3 linked regions of the Homo sapiens genome follow. The protein of the gene in region 1 interacts with the protein of each later gene in a pairwise test. Each region holds a gene or a part of one and is shown in the gene's direction. Other genes may lie near its edges.

What was found. Proteins that work in one complex are often made in the same cells at the same time.
Region 2: the proteins of TECR (region 1) and HACD2 interact in binary tests that used the Homo sapiens proteins (3 or more experiments, as listed by UniProt).
Region 3: the proteins of TECR (region 1) and VMA21 interact in binary tests that used the Homo sapiens proteins (3 or more experiments, as listed by UniProt).

What each region holds. Positions count from the first base shown.
Region 1 is NC_000019.10:14,524,689-14,532,613, forward strand, and holds the start of TECR (very-long-chain enoyl-CoA reductase), read left to right. Parts: upstream 1-4,905; 5' UTR 4,906-5,008; coding exon 5,009-5,023; intron 5,024-7,925. UniProt on the Homo sapiens protein: Involved in both the production of very long-chain fatty acids for sphingolipid synthesis and the degradation of the sphingosine moiety in sphingolipids through the sphingosine 1-phosphate metabolic pathway.
Region 2 is NC_000003.12:123,526,030-123,533,067, reverse strand, and holds part of HACD2 (very-long-chain (3R)-3-hydroxyacyl-CoA dehydratase 2), read left to right. Parts: intron 1-4,593; coding exon 4,594-4,682; intron 4,683-7,038. UniProt on the Homo sapiens protein: Catalyzes the third of the very long-chain fatty acids (VLCFA) elongation four-step cycle (condensation, reduction, dehydration, and reduction).
Region 3 is NC_000023.11:151,407,192-151,409,888, forward strand, and holds the end of VMA21 (vacuolar ATPase assembly integral membrane protein VMA21), read left to right. Parts: 3' UTR 1-2,173; downstream 2,174-2,697. UniProt on the Homo sapiens protein: Required for the assembly of the V0 complex of the vacuolar ATPase (V-ATPase) in the endoplasmic reticulum.

The sequences.
Region 1 (7,925 bases):
TGCAAAAATTAGTCAGGCATGGTGGCGTGCACCTGTAATCCCAGCTATTTGGGAGGCTGAGGCAGGAGAATCACTTGAACCTAGGAGGTGGAGGTTGCAATGAGCCGAGATGGTGCCACTGCACTCCAGCCTGGACAACAGAGCGAGACTCGTTCTCAAAAAAAAAAGACCTTCAAAAAGCGCTATAGCCATATGAGCCAACAATCCCACTCCCAGTGGGATACCCATGTGAAATGAAAACCTTTGTTCATATATAAAAATTCATGGCTGGGTGCGGTGGCTCATGCCTGTAATCCCAGCACTTTGGGAGGCCGAGGCGGGAGGATCACAAGGTCAAGAGATGGAGACCATCCTGACCAACATGGTGAAATTCCGTCTGTACTAAAAACACAAAAATTAGCTGGGCATGGTGGTGCACACCTGTAACCCAGCTATTCGGGAGGCTGATGCAGGAGAATCGCTTGAACCCAGAAGGTGGAGGTTGCAGTGAGCCGAGATTGCGCCACTGCACTCCAGCCTGGGTGACAGAGCGAGACTCCATCTCAAAAATAAAAATAAAAAAGATACTATTATAATGTTCATTTCCTGGCTCCTCTCAATTTCATCAACATAGCAACACCAGCAGGGTAAAATCTACTTTTTTTGTTTTTTTTTTTGAGATGGAGTCTCATGAGCGAATGTTTGCTGAGGCTTTATTAGTTATTACCAACAGCAGTTAAACCCTAACTGTCCTTCAATGGATGAATGGATAAACAAATGGGATCCATCCACACAATGGAATACTATTCAGCTATAAAAAGGAATGAGCTACGGATACAAAAAAACAACATTACAGATGAACCTCATATGCATTATGTGGGTGAAAGAAGCCAGGCTCAAAAGGCTGCATGATTCCATTTCACTCAACCTTCTGGAAAAGGCAAAAGTATCAGGACAGAAAGCAGATGAATGCTTGCCAGGGGCTGGGACCTGCAACAAATGGAGTAGTTTGGAGAATTTTTTGGGTTGGTGTAAATGCTCTGTATCTTGATTGTAGTGGTGGTTGCATGACCGTATGTGTTCAGAGCTGTACACTAAAATGGGTGAATTTTACTACATGTCAATTACACTTCAATGAAAAAAAAAAAAAGAAGGAGAAAAACCAAACAACCCAGGCAAGACAGGATAGGGCTTGGGAAACCTCTCTCTGGGATTCCTGACACAGCAGAAACTTGCTAACGAGCCCTGGCTTGTCTAGTCCCAGCTTCACCTCCCCTCACACACCCAGCGAGCCAGCTCATTCATACACAACCCAAACCAGCCAAGCCAGGTTCTGGAAAAAGTCAAGATCCGACCTGATCTGCCCATGGGAAATACAAAAGGAGCTTGTGAGACACGACATTACCAAACACATCACATCTCTGGCATTCAAATGGTCTCGGGTTCCCCCCAAACCTGAGGTCCAGAAAAGCTCATCCTTGGAAGCTGCCGCAGCTTAGGCCGTCTCTTGCAGTTTCTCCCTTGGAAATTACTTTAATAAAGGAGCTAGTTACCATCAGCTCAACAACGACCCAACAGATCTACCAGTCACCATTGTGAATCAGCCACTGCTGGGACTGTGAAGGGACCAGCAGGATCTAGCTGTCCCTACAGACAGGCACTGTCAGGGGGCCACAGTACAGTGTCCTCAGTGGCTTGAACAAAGTGGCCAGTCTTCATTCCAAGGGTGGGTTTCATTTCTGCTGACAGCCTGGTTACCGGAAGCCAGATGGGCAAACAAGGGGTTCCTCAAGCCTGCAACACCCCTCAAAAACAAAGAGGAATTCTACTTTGGAGGCTGGATCTTGCCTTTCTGCCAGCTTCTTATGGGTGAGGAGGGGGTGGAAATTATTTGTATGTTCCGGTTGACACGCAGCATAGTAGGTGCATGAGGATGATTTGGTGCCTGTTGAGTAAGTGTGGGGCTCAGAAAAGCAGTCTCAAAAGGGAATTTCCAAAACGTTCTGAGTTTATGGGAATATGTATGGAATCTCTTCAAAATGACACCTACTTGTACACCATCATGCCCTATCTAACTGCAACCCAGAGATGGAAGACTCACCTCTTCAGATCACATTAAATAAGTTGAAAATTTGCATAACTGGTGAAGGAGCAACACATGGATGGGTCTTAGGGTTTCAACCCTATCCCCATGGCCCCTCACAATCAAGTACCTCAGGTAACTCAATCTGATAGGATTTTAACTGTGGTCTCAGGCCGAGTGGGATGGCTCATGCCTGTAATCCCAGCGCTTTGGGAGGCCGAGGAGGGAGGATCACTTGAGGCCAGGAGTTCCAGAGCAGCCTGGGCAACATAATGAGATCCCATCTCTACTAAAAAATTAACTTGTGGCCTGGAAGCAAATACTCTCCCCCAGCACCCAAGAAGGGCAGGGAGTGAGGCCTGTCATGACACAGAAGGCCTCAAAACTCAAACTGCCACCAGAAAAATATCTCTGCTTTTTTTTTTTTTTTTTTTTTTTTTTTTTTTTTGAGACGGAGTTTCATTCTTGTCACCCAGGCTGGAGTGCAGTGGTGTGATCTCTGCTCACTGCAACCTCTGCCTCCTGGGTTCAACTGATTCTTCTGCCTCAGCTACTTGAGTAGCTGTGATTACAGGTGCCCACCACCACACCCAGATAATTTTTGTACTTTTAGTAGAGATGGTTTCGCCATGTTGGCCAAGCTGGTCTCAAACTCCTGACCTCAGGTGATCCTCCTGCCTCGGCCTCCCAAAGTGCTGGGATTACAGGCCTGAGCCACTGCGTCCGGCCAGATCCTTGCTTTTGAAAGCACACATACAGAACACCTTCAGGTTTTCATCTGTTTTTCCCAGATAGCACCAGTGAAAAAGATAATGAGTTTCCAGAAGACCACATAGCGTTGGCTTCCTGTACTCGCAGTCAGGGATCCCCAAAGGCTACAGCTTCAGAAGTTTCCAGAGCCAAATCTGGATGACTGAGTTCCAAGCACTGACTCACCCTTGCCTCCGCCTGCTCCCCTGTGAATCAGTGATCTACCTTTAAGGACTTCTCATCGTGTCTCTCATGACAGGCCTGTGAATTCCAGATGGTTCAACAGCTCATGAAAGCTCAGGGGCAGGATCTGGAAACAAGAGTAAGGAGAGGAGGTGAAGAAGTGTGCCAGGTACTGCCTGTTCCTTTGTCTGTCAAAAGTCTTTTCTTTTTTTTTCTTTTTTTTTTGAGACAGAATCTCACTCTGTCGCCCAGGCTGGAGTGCAGTGGTGCGATCTTGGCTCACTGCAACCTCCACCTCCCGGGTTCAAGCGATTCTCAGCCTCCCTAGTAGCTGGGATTACAGGTGCCCACCATTACACCTGGCTAATTTTTGTATTTTTAGTAGAGACAGGGTTTCACCACGTTGTCCAGGCTGGTCTTGAATTCCTGACCTCATGTGATCTGCCTGTCTTGGCCTCCCGAAGTGCTGGGATTACAGGTGTGAGCCACCGTGCCTGGCCAGAAATTTATGTGTTTTTCATTTACAGCACATCTCAATTTGGACCAGTCCCATTTCTTTTTCTTTTTTCTTTTTTTTTTTTTGAGACGGTCTGTTGCTCAGGCTGGAGTGTAGTGGCGAGATCTTGGCTCACTGCAACCTCCGCCTCCCGGGTTCAAGCAATTCTTCTGCCTCAGCCTCCTGATTAGCTGGGACTACAGGTGTGTACCACCACGCCCGGCTAATTTTTGTATTTTTAGTAGCGATGAGGTTTCACCATATCTGCCAGGCTGGTCTCGAACTCCTCACCTCGTGATCTGCCCCCCTCGGCCTCCCAAGGTGCTAGGATTACAGGTGTGAGCCATCGTTCCCGGCCTGGACCAGCCCCATTTCAAGGGCTCAGTGGCCCCATTGGAGCCACTAGACACGATTCTGGACGTCAGGCAGAGACCAATGTAGTTCCCCTGTCCATAGGGCGGAGCAAAGTGTGGAGGGGGGCCGGGCGGGGTGGCTCAGGCCTGTAATCCTAGCACTTTGGGAGGCTGAGGCGGGAGGATCACCTGAGGTCAGGAGTTCAAGACCAGCCTGGCCAACCATGGGGAAACCCCGTCTCTACTAAAAAAAATACAAAAATTAGTCGGGCGTGGTGGCGGGTGCCTGTAATCTCATCTACTTGGGAGGCTGAGGCATGAGAATCGCTTGAACCCGGGAGGCGGAGGTTGCGTGAGCCGTCATTGCGCCACTGCACTCCAGCTGGGGGACAGAACGAGATTGTTTCAAAAACAAAACAAAACAGAAAAACAAAGTGGGGCGGGGCTTTCATTAAAAACGGCAGTGAAGCCACCCCAGAATGGGGCTGGGGCTCAAGGTTCTTGCAGGTTGGGGGTTCCCAAATGGGGAGCTTTTCGCGACTCCGTTTCGCCTTTCCTTCCCTCCCACTCAAGAGTCTCCTCCCATAGTGACCTCCTCGCCAACCAGACTCCGCAGCCCGCGACCCCAGCCCCTAGCCCTCTCCTGCTGTTCCCGGTGTACCCCGGGGGCCGCCCACCTCAGAATTTACCCCTTCGGCGCCGCCTGTCATGTGGATGCTGCCTTGCCTGTCACTCAACTTCTTACCCCGCCCCCGCGTCTGGCCTAACCGTCGCTTACCTTGGTTTCCACAGCGACGCCATCAGGGGGCGTGGCAAAGGGACGCGCGGGGCAGAGACCTCCTTTGGATTGGTGGATGGTCAAGCCCCTTCTCTTTAGCCCCTCCTACAGGCGTTCCGCCCCCTTCGATTGGTCTCGCAAGTTGATTGGTCAATCCCCTGGTGCTAGTCCTAGTCTTGGTTCGGACCGGCCCCAAGGAGCAGGGGCGAACGTGGGCGCCTCGTGCCCTGATTGGCCGACGGGGCGCGCGCGGCCTGGAGGGGCGGGGCGGACGCAGAGCCGCGTTTAGTCTATCGCTGCGGTTGCGAGCGCTGTAGGGAGCCTGTGCTGTGCCGCGCAGTTAGGCAGCAGCAGCCGCGGAGCAGTAGCCGCCGTGGGAGGGAGCCATGAAGCATTACGAGGTAAGAAGCGAGAAACAGGGGCCGTGTGGCCACTGCTGACCCATTCTTTTTCCTTCTTTGCGGGACCACGGGACCCCACTTTCTGGTCCTGTGCCCCGAAGGAAGAGCCAGACGGCGCAGGCGCAGTGGGCAAGCGTTGCGCCCCGGGCCACTCGTAAATTCCAATGCGCATGTGCGCAGGAAGTATTTATAAATCTGCAACCCAGGCTGTTTTGGGGGTACTTTTTCTTGGGGGTCTCTGCAGGGGCTGGGACGCTTGCAGGTTCCTTGCAGCTCCCCCAGCGGGCTGAGTTGCAGACTTTGTCATGGGAGCCACGAAGGTGCGGGACCCTTGCTCCCAATCCGAGGGAGTCTTGCACAAATCTTGCGCCACGCCGCCGTCACCAGCGTAGGAAGGGGCTTTGCTATCAGTATTCTTGTGTACGACCTTTGGACCCCTTCCCTCGCCCGGGACGTTCCCGGGAGACTTAGGCGGTGAGGGAGGTGCAGCTCCACGGCTGGCTTTCGCAGAGCAGCGAAGCTGATCTTGCTTTCTGGTTATCAAAGAGGTCATCTACGTCAACCCTTGGGTGTCACCAAGGAGAAATCTTATACCCACCCACAGCCACTCTTGAAGCCCAAGTCTTCTGACTCCTAACTTGGGTCTCTTTTTCCCTTAAAACGAAGTCTTCTGATGTGCTTATCGCCCTAGGTGATAATATAATATTAATAATTCAACCAATTATCCCTGAATTATTGCTGACTTTTAAGTAACTATCATCAAATAATAAAATTTGTTATTAAAATTCAAAATAACAATTTAGCAAGTGCTTACTCTTGTGCTGGTGAGATTCTGTTACCTTGTATAAGAACTATTATTATTCCTGTTTGTAAGGATGAATAAAGTCTCAGAGATATAAAGTGACTTGTTCAAAGGCCCCTAGTTAGTAAATGCAAAACAGATAGGGGAACTCAGGACGCCAAGGTCTTAGTTCCTAGCCACTATGCCATGCTGGTCCTCAAATGAAAAATAGCAGGTCGAGCGATTTCTTGTTTCTCACTTCCCCTCCAATTTAAAAAATTCTGGCAAAATACACATAAAATTTACCATCTTGACTATTTTTAAGTGTGCAGTTCAGTGGCATTAAGAACATTCACATTGTTGTGCAACCATCACCACCACCCATCTCCAGAACTCTTTGCATCTTGGAAAACAGAAGCTGTAGACGTTAAATACTAACTCCCCATTCCTCTCCACCTCCACCTCTGGCAGCCACCATTCTACTCAGCCACCATTCCGTCTTAATGAATTGACTACTCTAGGTACCTTGGATACGTAGAAGGATTTTTTTTTTCTTTTGGAGACAGAGTTTCGGTCTTATTGCCCGGGCTGGAGTGCAATGGCGCGATCTCGGCCTACTGCAAACTCCGCCTCCTGGGTTTAAGCGATTCTCCTGCCTCAGCCTCCTGAATAGCTGGGATTACAGGTGACCGCCACCATGCCCGGCTAATTTTTTGTATTTTTAGTAGAGATGGGGGTTTCACCATGTTGACCAGGCTGGCCTCAAACTCTTGACCTCAAGTGATTTGCCCTCCTCGGCCTCCCAAAGTACTGGGATTACAGGTGTGAGCTAGTGCGCCCGGCTGTTTGTTTTTATTGACAAGTTGAATATTACTACCTCTGCCTCCTGCCCCCTTTATTGCTACTATTTTTGGAAATTTACCCACAATCCTTTGAAGCCTTTTTTTGAGACGGAGTTTCGCTCTTGTTGAGTACGCTGGAGTGCAATGGCGTGATCTTGGCTCACCGCAACCTCCACCTCCCGGGTTCAAGTGATTCTCCTGCCCCAGCCTCCTGAGTAGCCGGAATTACAGTCATGAGCCACCATGCCCGGCTAATTTTGTATTTTTAGTAGAGACAGGGTTTCTCCATGTTGGTCAGGCTGGTCTCGAACTCCCGACCTCAGGTGATCCACCCACCTTGGCCTCCCAGAGTGCTGGGATTACAGGCATGAGCCACGGTGCCTAGCCCCTTAGAAGCCTTTAACCCACAAATCCTGTAATTTTTGACATGGTATCAAGAATGAGGAGGTTTGTATTCAATAATCTCTGTCATTTAAGTTTTCATTCTAGAATGAAGTTCTGATGTGGATTCCCCTCTCAAACTCTATATCTAAACCTGTAGTCCCACTACTGTAGTCTCAGCTACTCGGGAGGCTGAAGCAGGAGGATGGCTTGAGCCCAGGAGGTTGAGGCTGCAGTGAGCCCAAAAATCAGGCCACTGCACTCCAGCCTGGGCAACAGAGACCCTGTTTGAAGAAAAAAAAAAAAAAAAAAAAAAGCTACCATGTCCAGCTTGAAACATGCAGTTTGGAACATCCATATGGCATTTTGCAAATGTAGTTGGTTTAGTTTTGCTAGTTAACAGTCAGATAAAGTAGGCCTCTGAGCACCCTGGGGGTGCGTGCTTTTGTTCCAGGAAGCTGGGCACAGCCTGAGGCCCAAGACTTGGACTGGAGAATATGCTCCACCGTACTTAATCCTTTTCTCTCCCAGAAAGAAGGGGGAGCTTTGGCCAGGCATGGTGGCTCACGCCTGTAATCCCAGCACTTTGGTAGGCTGAGGTGGCCGGATCGCTTGAGGTGAGGAGTTCAAGACCAGCCTGGCTAACATGGAGAAACCTTGTCTCTACTAAAAATACAAAAGTGAGCCGAGTGTTGTGGCACACGCCTGTAATCTCAGCTACTTGGAGGCAGAGGTTGCAGTGAGCTGAGATCATGCCACTGTACTCCAGCCTGGATGACAGAGCGAGAGTCTGTCTCAAAAAAAAAAAAAAAAAAAAAAAGGGAAGCTTCAAACTCACTGTTCAAAGTGACCTTGAAGGAAAAAATAAATTGTTATTTTGCTGTGTTGTTTGTTATTC
Region 2 (7,038 bases), on another chromosome or scaffold:
AGATCTAGCGTGAAGGTTTCTGGCTACCAAGTTAAAGAGGGTGACAGAGTTATATAATTCTTATTATTGGAAAGGAGCAAACCTTTCTTAACATTGAGCTCTAAAACAAATTTCCTACCTGTATGAGAGGCTTTGAGTGATAGGGTGGACATTATACTGTACACCATTCCTACGGCAAATAAGGTAATATTAATACTGTTTGACAGTCTTTTTTTTTTTTTTTTTTTTTTTTTTGAGACGGAGTCTCACTCTGTCACCCTGGCTGGAGTACAGTGGCACGTTTTCGGCTCACTGCAAACTCTGCTCCCGGGTTCAAGAGATCTCCTGCCTCAGCCTCCCGAGTAGCTGGGATTACAGGCGACTGCCACCACGCCCGGCTAATTTTTGTATTTAGTAGAGACGGGGTTTCACCATGTTGGCCAGGGGCCAGGTTGGTCTCAAACTCCGGACCTCAGGTGATCTGCCCACCTCAGCCTCCCAAAGTGCTGGGATTACAGGCGTAAGCCACTGTGCCTGGCCTTAGTTTCTTATGAAATTCACCTGATAATAATGATAAGCCCAACTTGGTGATGCCAGCTCTGTTCAGAGCTGAGATAATGCCCATCTATGTGGCCATCTGTTCTTTAGCTTAAATTCAGGGATAGAGCTCTTGGCCTTTTGACTGGTCCAGTAGAGCAGGCATTTCGAGATTGTGCTGTCAGGTGAGGGCCTGAACTGCTGTTTGCTGGGTGACTGGTTGAAGTAGTTGTCTATGCTACAGAGAAACTAAGTGACAGTTGGTCTGAATGACATGATTTGGGGAAAATTAAGGTGTCTAAGTAGGCGAGTTCACTGGATAGAGAACGGTAGAAGCACCTGCAGGCAAGGCCAGAAACATCTTGACATCTACTTCAATTAGAAAGTATTGATCAGCTTTTTGTTCACTACTTATTAAGATTTAAATTTACTGCCAAAGGTGTGCTAAGACAGGCACTTTTGTATATTGCTGGTGGGAGTATAAATTGGTAATAAACTTCTTAGAAAGCAGTTTGGCAATACATTTCAAGAGCCTTAAAAACATTCATGCCATTTGACCTAGTACTTCTACTTCTGGGAAAATGTCCCAAGGAAATAATCCTTTTTTTAAAAAAAGGTCTAAGCCTCGAATTTTGAGTGTTATTTGTAATGCTTCATTACTTCATTTATAGTATCAAGAAATTCGAGGCAATTTAAATGTCCCACAGAAGGAGAATAAACAAACATATTAACTCAAAGGAATATCATGATTTAAGCTAAAATCTTTTGAAGAAGAGAAGGAAAATTCTTAAAATGTTAAATGAGAAAAGCAAAAACAATATAAACAGTAGAAGTTAAACTGGTTTAAAATATGCTTAGAGGAAAAGACTGGTGAGAAATACACTAAATAAATCGTTGTGTGTGTGTGTGGATACTAAAGCATTTTTAAGAAAAACACTGTTGACCAGGTGTGGTGGCTCACTCACACCTGTAATCTCAGCACTTTGGGAGACCGAGGCAGCGGGTGGATGACCTGAGGTCAGTTTCAGATGACCTGAAACTCCGCCTCTAACAAAAATACAAAAATTAGCCAGGCATGGTGGTGCATACCTGTAATCCCAGATACTCAGGAGGCTGAGGCACAAGAATCACTTGAACCTGGGAGGCGGAGGTTGCAGTGAGCCAAGATTGTGCCACTGCATTCCAGCCTGGGCGATAGAACAAGACTGTCTCAAAAAAAGAAAAGAAAAGAAAAACACTGTTAATTTATGTATGGCATTTTTGAAAGGGAGACAAATACAAATTTATATTCCCTAGAGAAGGGTGATTTATAGTGGAGAGGGAATAATTAATAAACCTGTGTTCAGCTGAATTGCAGTTTTTGCCCCTAGACCTTCTAGTTCCATTTGTTTAAAGTTACTCTTAGCGCCTGTAATCCCAGCACTTTGGGAGGCTGAGGCGGGCAGATCACGAGGTTAAGAGATCGAGACCATCCTGACCAACATGGTGAAACCCCGTCTCTACTAAAACCACAAAAATGAACTGGGCATGGTAGCGCGTGCCTATAATCCCAGCCACTCGGGAGGCTAAGGTAGGAGAATCACTTGAACCCAGGAGGCAGGGGTTGCAGTGAGCCGAAATTGCGCCATTGCACTCCAGCCTGGGCGACAGGAGTGAAACTCCATCTAAAAACAACAACAACAACAACAAAAAGTTACTTTAGCTGGGCATGGGGGCTCACGCCTGTAATCTCAGCATTTTGGGAGGCCAAGGCAGGAGAATTGTGTGAGCTTAGGAGTTCGAAACCAGCCTGGGCAACATAGCAAGACGTTGTCTCTACAAAAACTTTAAAAAATTACCTGGGCAGGCCGGGCGCAGTGGCTCACGCCTGTAATCCCAGCACTTTGGGAGGCCAAGGCAGGCGGATCACAAGGTCAGGAGATCGAGACCATCCTGGCCAACATAATGAAACCCCATCTCTACTAAAAATATAAAAATTAGCCGGGCATGGTGGCTTATGCCTGTAACTCCAGCTACTCGGGAGGCGGAGGCAGGAGAACCCCTTGAACCAGGGAGTTGGAGGTTGCAGTGAGCTGAGATCGCCCCACAGCACTCTAGCCTGGCGACAGAGCAAGACTCCGTCTCAAAAAAAAAAAAAAAAAAATTACCTGGCACACCGTGTGGTCCCAGCTACTTGGGACGCTGAGGCGAGAGGATGGCCTGAGCCCAGGAGTTTGAGGCTGCAGTGAGAGATATGATGGCGTCATGTACTCCAGCCTGGGTGACAGAGTGAAATCTGGTCTCTTTTTTTTAAAAAAAGAAATCCTTTAATTCTCAGTTCTTTTCTTTTTACTTTTTGTTTGTTTGTTTGTTTGAAATCAAAGAAATCAAAGGCTTCCTCTATATGGGTGCTTTCCTTACAGGTGCCTAGGTAGTTATTGCTTCAACCTCATTAATCCCCCTCTCCCAGCAAAATGAAACTTAACATGTTAATAAGCAAAATATGATTTTCAAAATAGGTCTATTATAATAGAAATATGGAAGAGTACAATTCTGCCATTTTCCTAAATATTAAACATTATTTTACAAGAATGGCTTAAAACATAAGCCTTGTTTTGCAGTATATGAGCTTTCCATCTTCAATATATTTTTTTTTTTAAATTGGTTTCTAGAGGAAATCCACAACTGCATATTGTCCCATCTAAGTGTGATCTGGCTAAATATATTCACTAAATGTTTGACTTACTAATTAGCTCTGTTAGCTGTATTACACAATTATATAACCAGGTTTTATAATTCATTTATACATTTATTTATGTATTTATTTACTTTTACTCATTTATTCTGAGACAGGACCTCACTCTGTCACCCAGGCTGGAGTGCAGTGGCATGATCACAGCTCACTGCAGCCTCAACCTCCCAAACTCAAGCAATCCTCTTGCCTCAGCCTCCCTAGAACTGGTACTAGAGGCGTACGCTACCATGGCGAGCTAATATGTTTTTTATTTTTAGTAGAGACAAGGTCTCGCTATGTTGTGCAGGATGGTCTAGAACTCCTGGACTCAAGCAATTCTCCTGCTTCAGCCTCCCAGAGTGTTGGGATTACAGGCGTGAGCCACTGTTTCTGGCCATTTATTTTTTTAGTAACAGCTTTGTTAAGATATAACTAACTGCCAGGTGTGGTGGCTCACACCTGTAATCCCAGCACTTTGGGAAGCCGAGGCAGGCGGATCAGCTGAGGTCAGGAGTTCAAGACCAGCCTGGCCAATATGGTGAAGCCCTATCTCTACCAAAAGTACAAAAACTTAGCCAGCGATGGTGGCACATGCCTGTAGTCCCAGCTACTTGGGAGGCTGAGGCACAAGAATCACTTGAACCTGGGAGGTGGAGGTTGCAGTGAGCTGAGATTGCACCACTACACTCCAGCCTGGGTGACAGAGTGAGACTCGGTCTCAAAAAATAAATAAAGAAAATAATCAAAGATGATTCCAGTGTTATAACTTGAGGACATTGGGAGGATAATTGTGCCAGGGCTTGTAATGAACAAGGTGATAAAAAAAAAAAAAGGTTTTAAAGATAGTCTTTTATGTTGTTATGCTTGTTGGCAAAATATTCAAGTAGATAATAAAAGATACCTAACTTAACCATTAGATAGTGTATCAAGTCTGATGTCCATGAGCTTCCAGCACTCATTAGACACAAATAGGATTGATTTCTCATCCTTTGTTTCCTATTTGTTTTGAAACCCGTATTGTAAAATGAGTCTTATTTTAAAGATTAGGTAGTGGTTTTGCTTTCTCCATCTATACAGTAAGTGTAAAAAATACTGTACTTGGTCAGTGGTTTTGAGAGGTTTAAGAAAGGTACCTGGATCCCATGGTTTTATAATACCATTAAAAATATTATTGTTTTTAGGGAGAAAACTTTGTTTTAATGTGGACTACATTGAAAACTTAGTCTGTGTAACAATATAGACACCTTTCAGTTGCTCAAGACCGTTTTGACTCTAAACATTTAAGTTGGAATGTTTTAGAAAATATATTATATATCGAAACTTAGTACAGTACATTTATTTATCCATCCCAAAATTTCTTTCAGGAATTGTTCCATCTTCTGTTGTCCTGACTTCTTTCCAGGTGATGTCAAGAGTTTTTCTAATATGGGCAGTAACACATAGCGTCAAAGAGGTAAGTGTTTATATAGACCAAAATAATGTCAACACTAACAAACACTAGTCAACTTTTCTGATTCACATGTTTGTTATGGCTAAAGAGTTCCAGGTCAGAGTTCCAGGTCATGTCAATATAGCTGAGATAAAGCTCACATTCACTGTAGGAACTGGGTTAATAGTGGGAAACATATCCCAGATATGCAGTGTTGTTAAAAAGAAGACTGATTAAATGGTAAAGTCCTGTAATCTGAGTTCTCATGGAGGTTCAGATGGTGTGGATGTGGTCTGCAACTCAGTTATATTTTTCTGATATCTTGTTCGTATCATGTTGCCCAGGCCGCTCTCGAACTCCTGAGCTCAAGCAATCTGCCTGCCTCACTCTCCCCAAATTCTAGGATTTCAGGCATGAGCCACCACACCTGACCCAAGTCATCATTTTAAACCTATACAGTAGTTCCCTCTTATCCAAGGGGAATACATTCCAAAACCCCCACTGGATACCAGAAACAGCGGCTAGCACACAACCCGATTGCTGCTGACCGAAACACGTTTCTGTTTATGCCTTCTACCCGCAAATGTAATGCCTTTTACATATTTACTAAGCATTTATCATGCCCTGTGGCCGCAACTTTTGCAGTTTGAGGTTCACCAGCAAAACAAGCACAAATTTCTTTTTCCTTCACAATTTCACAAATATAAGATTTGTTCCTACTGTAGGACTTAGCAACTTTAGCATACAGTTTGTTTTGTTTCGTTATTAAGCTGAGAACTTTTACTGTCTCGCTTCAAGGAAGTTCTTTATGGCTCCTCTTTGGCATATCTGAATTGCCAGCATCACTACTCTTGCATTTTGGGGCTGTTTTTAAATAAAATAAGGGTTACTTGAACACAAGCACTGATAACCAAGTTAGCTACTAAGTGATTAATGGGCCAGTAGCATATACAGTATGGATACACTGGACAAAGGGAAGATTCGTGTCCTAGGTGGGATAGAGTGGGACAGCATGAGATTTCATCATGCTGCTGAGAACAGTGTACAACTTAAGAATTAGGAATTGTTTCTTTCAGGAATTTTCCATTTAATATTTTTGGACTGTGGTTGACCAGGTGTAACAGAAGCTACGGAAAGTGAAACTTCAGATAAGCAAGGACTGCGATATTTCTTCCTCTCATACTTTTGTGTAGATACCATTTCCTTTTCATTTTAACCAACAACTCATAATTTTATCTTCCAATAGTCTCCAATGACCTAAAACTTCTTCCTAGTAGTAACTCATTTACATTCTTAAATAGATAATTAATGTACTTTCAGTAATTAAGTGCTAGGTACATGAAGTCAAAGTATTGTTCACTATGAAATATCCAATCACTTTGCCAATATAGTCAAATATTAATTGTCCAGGTGCTAATCCACCAGTTGATAGATTCTTCATGGGCTCTGCTTCCTCCCTTCCACTTAGTGACCACTCCTCAGCTATGAGCACATCTGCCAAAGCAGGTAGACAGGTACGTCAAAAATGCTTTACAACTCAAATCAGGCAATTCTATTAGTCAAGTTGCTGTTAGCAACATTTGCCAGGATTTCCTGTGTAGATCATTGAAACTGGTTGGCTTGCAAAGCTATTAAATGTCTCTGTGGATTATAGGTACATGGACTTGGTGTCATCCTCCATAACCATGCTGCCTGCCAGATGCAAAGGACTTAACATATAACAGACGGTTTCACATACATTATCACATTTGAGCTTTACAGTAATTTGTTATATACTCATTACATTTCCATATTCAAAATTGTTTCTCTACAACCAGAGTGACTCAATTTCTGCTAACATTAACATATCATTTTCTTTACCTGCCAAAAAAAAAAAGGAAAAGAAAAAGAAAAGGCATATCATTTTCTGAAGTATGTAGTACATTCTTCAGTATATTTTATTGTCTTCCCATCGCCTCTTGGATCCTCTTGTTTTTACATATGCACTGTTGATGAATTGACTTACTCTTTTCACTTGTAATTGGACTTCAGCGTTTCTGCTGTCCTAGGATCATGGTTCTTTTCTCCTCATTCTCTTTTTCTCTGCACAGAACTCCTCATTCATCGTTTTGTTTAGAGCAGTAGGTGCCCTCCATCCCTGCCCTACGTCTTCGACAGCTAACTTGAAAAGCCTGTTGCTGTGGCCCCTCAGAGGCCAGTACTTGCTATATGTCACCTTGAAAAGCCTGTTGCTGTGGCCCCTCAGAGGCCAGTGCTTACTATCTGTCACCTTGAAAAGGCTGTTGCTGTGGCCCCTCAGAGGCCAGTGCTTGCTATATGTCACCTTGAAAAGGCTGTTGCTGTGGCCCCTCAGAGGCCAGTGCTTGCTCTCTGTCAACTG
Region 3 (2,697 bases), on another chromosome or scaffold:
TTTTCTGCAAGTATTTAAACCAGGGGCATATGCAAAGGCAGTTGTAATTTCCTCTTGGAAAAAGCGCCAAATGTTTGAAGGTTAAAATCAAATGCTAGGGTTGATATTTAGGCTTATAACAAAATAGGCTTGTTTTCAAAGCAGTTTTTTCCTAGAGTTTTAACTGTTAACTCACTAGTTTGCTGCTGTTTTTAACTATGTTAAATAACATATGGTATTTGGCAAATAGATTTATTTTTCAAAATGTCTCACTAGTTTCCTTTTACACAATGTATATACTTCAAGATGTATAGAAAGGAAAGCTACAGTTGAGCCCTTATACATGTTTTAAGGTAGAAATATGTTCCCTATTGTTTGAAAACTGATTGTAAGAATAACCTCAGTTAGGAGATATAACTTGAAGTGTCAGTCCAAACTACTGATTTAACCCTATTTACGGTAACACATTACCTTCCTCACCTCCTGTTTGGCCCTGGAGAATGTAGTCCTTTTTCTCATTTGTGTTGAGAAATGAAAAGTCTGCTGTAGAATGTATCTGATGTCATTAGTTCTTCAAATGGATACCATTGTACATATAACAGTAGAATTTGGTTTGGGGTTGTTAGTGAAAAAAAATTTAAACCTGCCATTAAAAATCCCCATGTTTCATGGAAATCTAACAGAAATACATTGTAATAATTAGAACATTTTGTTTTCTTTTTTCTTTTTTTTTTTTTCGAGACGGAGTTTTGCCCTTCTTGCCCAGGCTGGAGTGCAAGGGCGCAATCTCGGCTCGCTGCAACCTCCGCCTCCCGGGTTCAAGCAGTTCTCCTGCCTCAGCCCCCTGAGTACCTCAGATGACAGGTGCGTGCCACCACACCCGGCTAATTTTTGTATTTTTAGTAGAGACGGGGTTTCACCATGTTAGCCAGGCTAGTCTCGAACTCCTGACCTCAGGTGATCCACCCGCCTCCGCCTCCCAAAGTGCTGGGATTACAGGTATCAGCCACCGTGCCTGGCCTAATAATTGGAACATTTTCATCATGAAAATGTCATCAGCTTTGCCAAAAGAAACAACCAATTGACTTGTTTGGCGTTTGTTTTCCATTTTCATGTCAATTTTATGTATACAGTTAGAATACCCAAGGAGACCACTAAAATCAGTTAAACAAGTAGGGTATATACAAAGAAAGATGAAACCCGAAAGTACATAAAAAGGATTTAAATCCGATTTTAGATGTACCTAGTGTGTATTTCTTATCTCTAGACAAGTTCATGTTTATTGTTTAATTTATGCCCAAGTGAAGTTGTAAACTTATGGTTCAACTCTGACACAGAATTTGTCACTTGTCTGAGGTCAGTGGCAGGTTTCTCTGCTGTCAAGCACTCTGTGTCACCCACCAGATTAGTATAACTATTAATTCAGACTGTACTCCTATGTTTAAGATAATTTTTACAAGAGCTGGCTGAAGCAGCACATTAGTAACCTGACAAGATTTCTTTTTCCCTTTTCAGGGGGAAAGGGTCACCTTAAAAATAAATTATTTTCAGGGACTTTGGGAATCTAATGATAAATATTACACATAATCTATGAATAGCTTAATCCTTTATATATTCCTTAAAATAGGAATTCCTCGACATCACTCCTGGCCACACTTTCCTTGCCTGTGTTGTTGCTATGTGTATTTGAAAGTAATATCTGCATTCCTTTTAAGATGTTCTGTAAGTCATATTTGTCAGTTATACAGAGTAGTCTTCCTTTTCCCCACGTTCAGTGTAATCTCACTGAACAGTAATAATAGCAATAGCTAACAACATCTGCACAGCACCTTACAGTTTGCAAAGAACGTTCACACATTCTCATTTGAGTTTTGCATAGTGAACCTGTTACGAGATGTCTCTTGACGTCGATGCTAAAAGTGTTAGAATCTTTACATCACTAGAGTCATTGAATATGCTGTAGTATTGAATAGTGCCCTGACTAGGGGGAGGATTTGGATGTGCTGCATTTCAAGCCGTGTATAATCATCAAAATGGGGGGCTTGAGTTCTTTAGCTACTTGAATCCGATTTACTTCTGTTAAGTGATGCTTTTCTAACCGTTTTCTGGATGGATTTTGTATTCACTATATTGTAGCTTGTAATTTGTATAAATGTACCATCTGATGTCATTAAAAAAAGTGTTTGTAGTGCTACTTTGCTGTGTCCTGATTCAATTAATGTTTTATTAACCGCTGTGTTTTTAAAAATTTGTTTGCCTGCTTCTCATTTTATAACATGTAGAATATGTACAGAGCTCACTTTAAAAAATTTGTTCGTTGGCCTCTGTTTGTGCTATGTAGATTATATAGAGAGCTGTCAAGGATAAGTTTTTATGCAGTAAATGTCAACCAGAAATGCTCAAACTGATTGGGAGTGTGGGGGAGGGGTGTTGAGCTGTAAAGGGCTGGTTATACTTCGTCTGGGGTGGGCTTCAAATGCCCCTAAAGGAGAGTTGAGAAATGTGGAAATAGATAATTCCTGACGACGTCCACATGCCACCCCCTCATGACCAATGTCCTGTGTCCTCTGTCCTCTAATCACCCGTTGATTGCACTCCAGCTCCTTCCTGTGCTTCTGAGGACTCCAGCTAATTCTTACTAATAAATGTTAATATCCCCTTCCCAAACACATTTGAGACGTCTTAGTATTAACAAATTTTATAGGTTATGAGATGTCC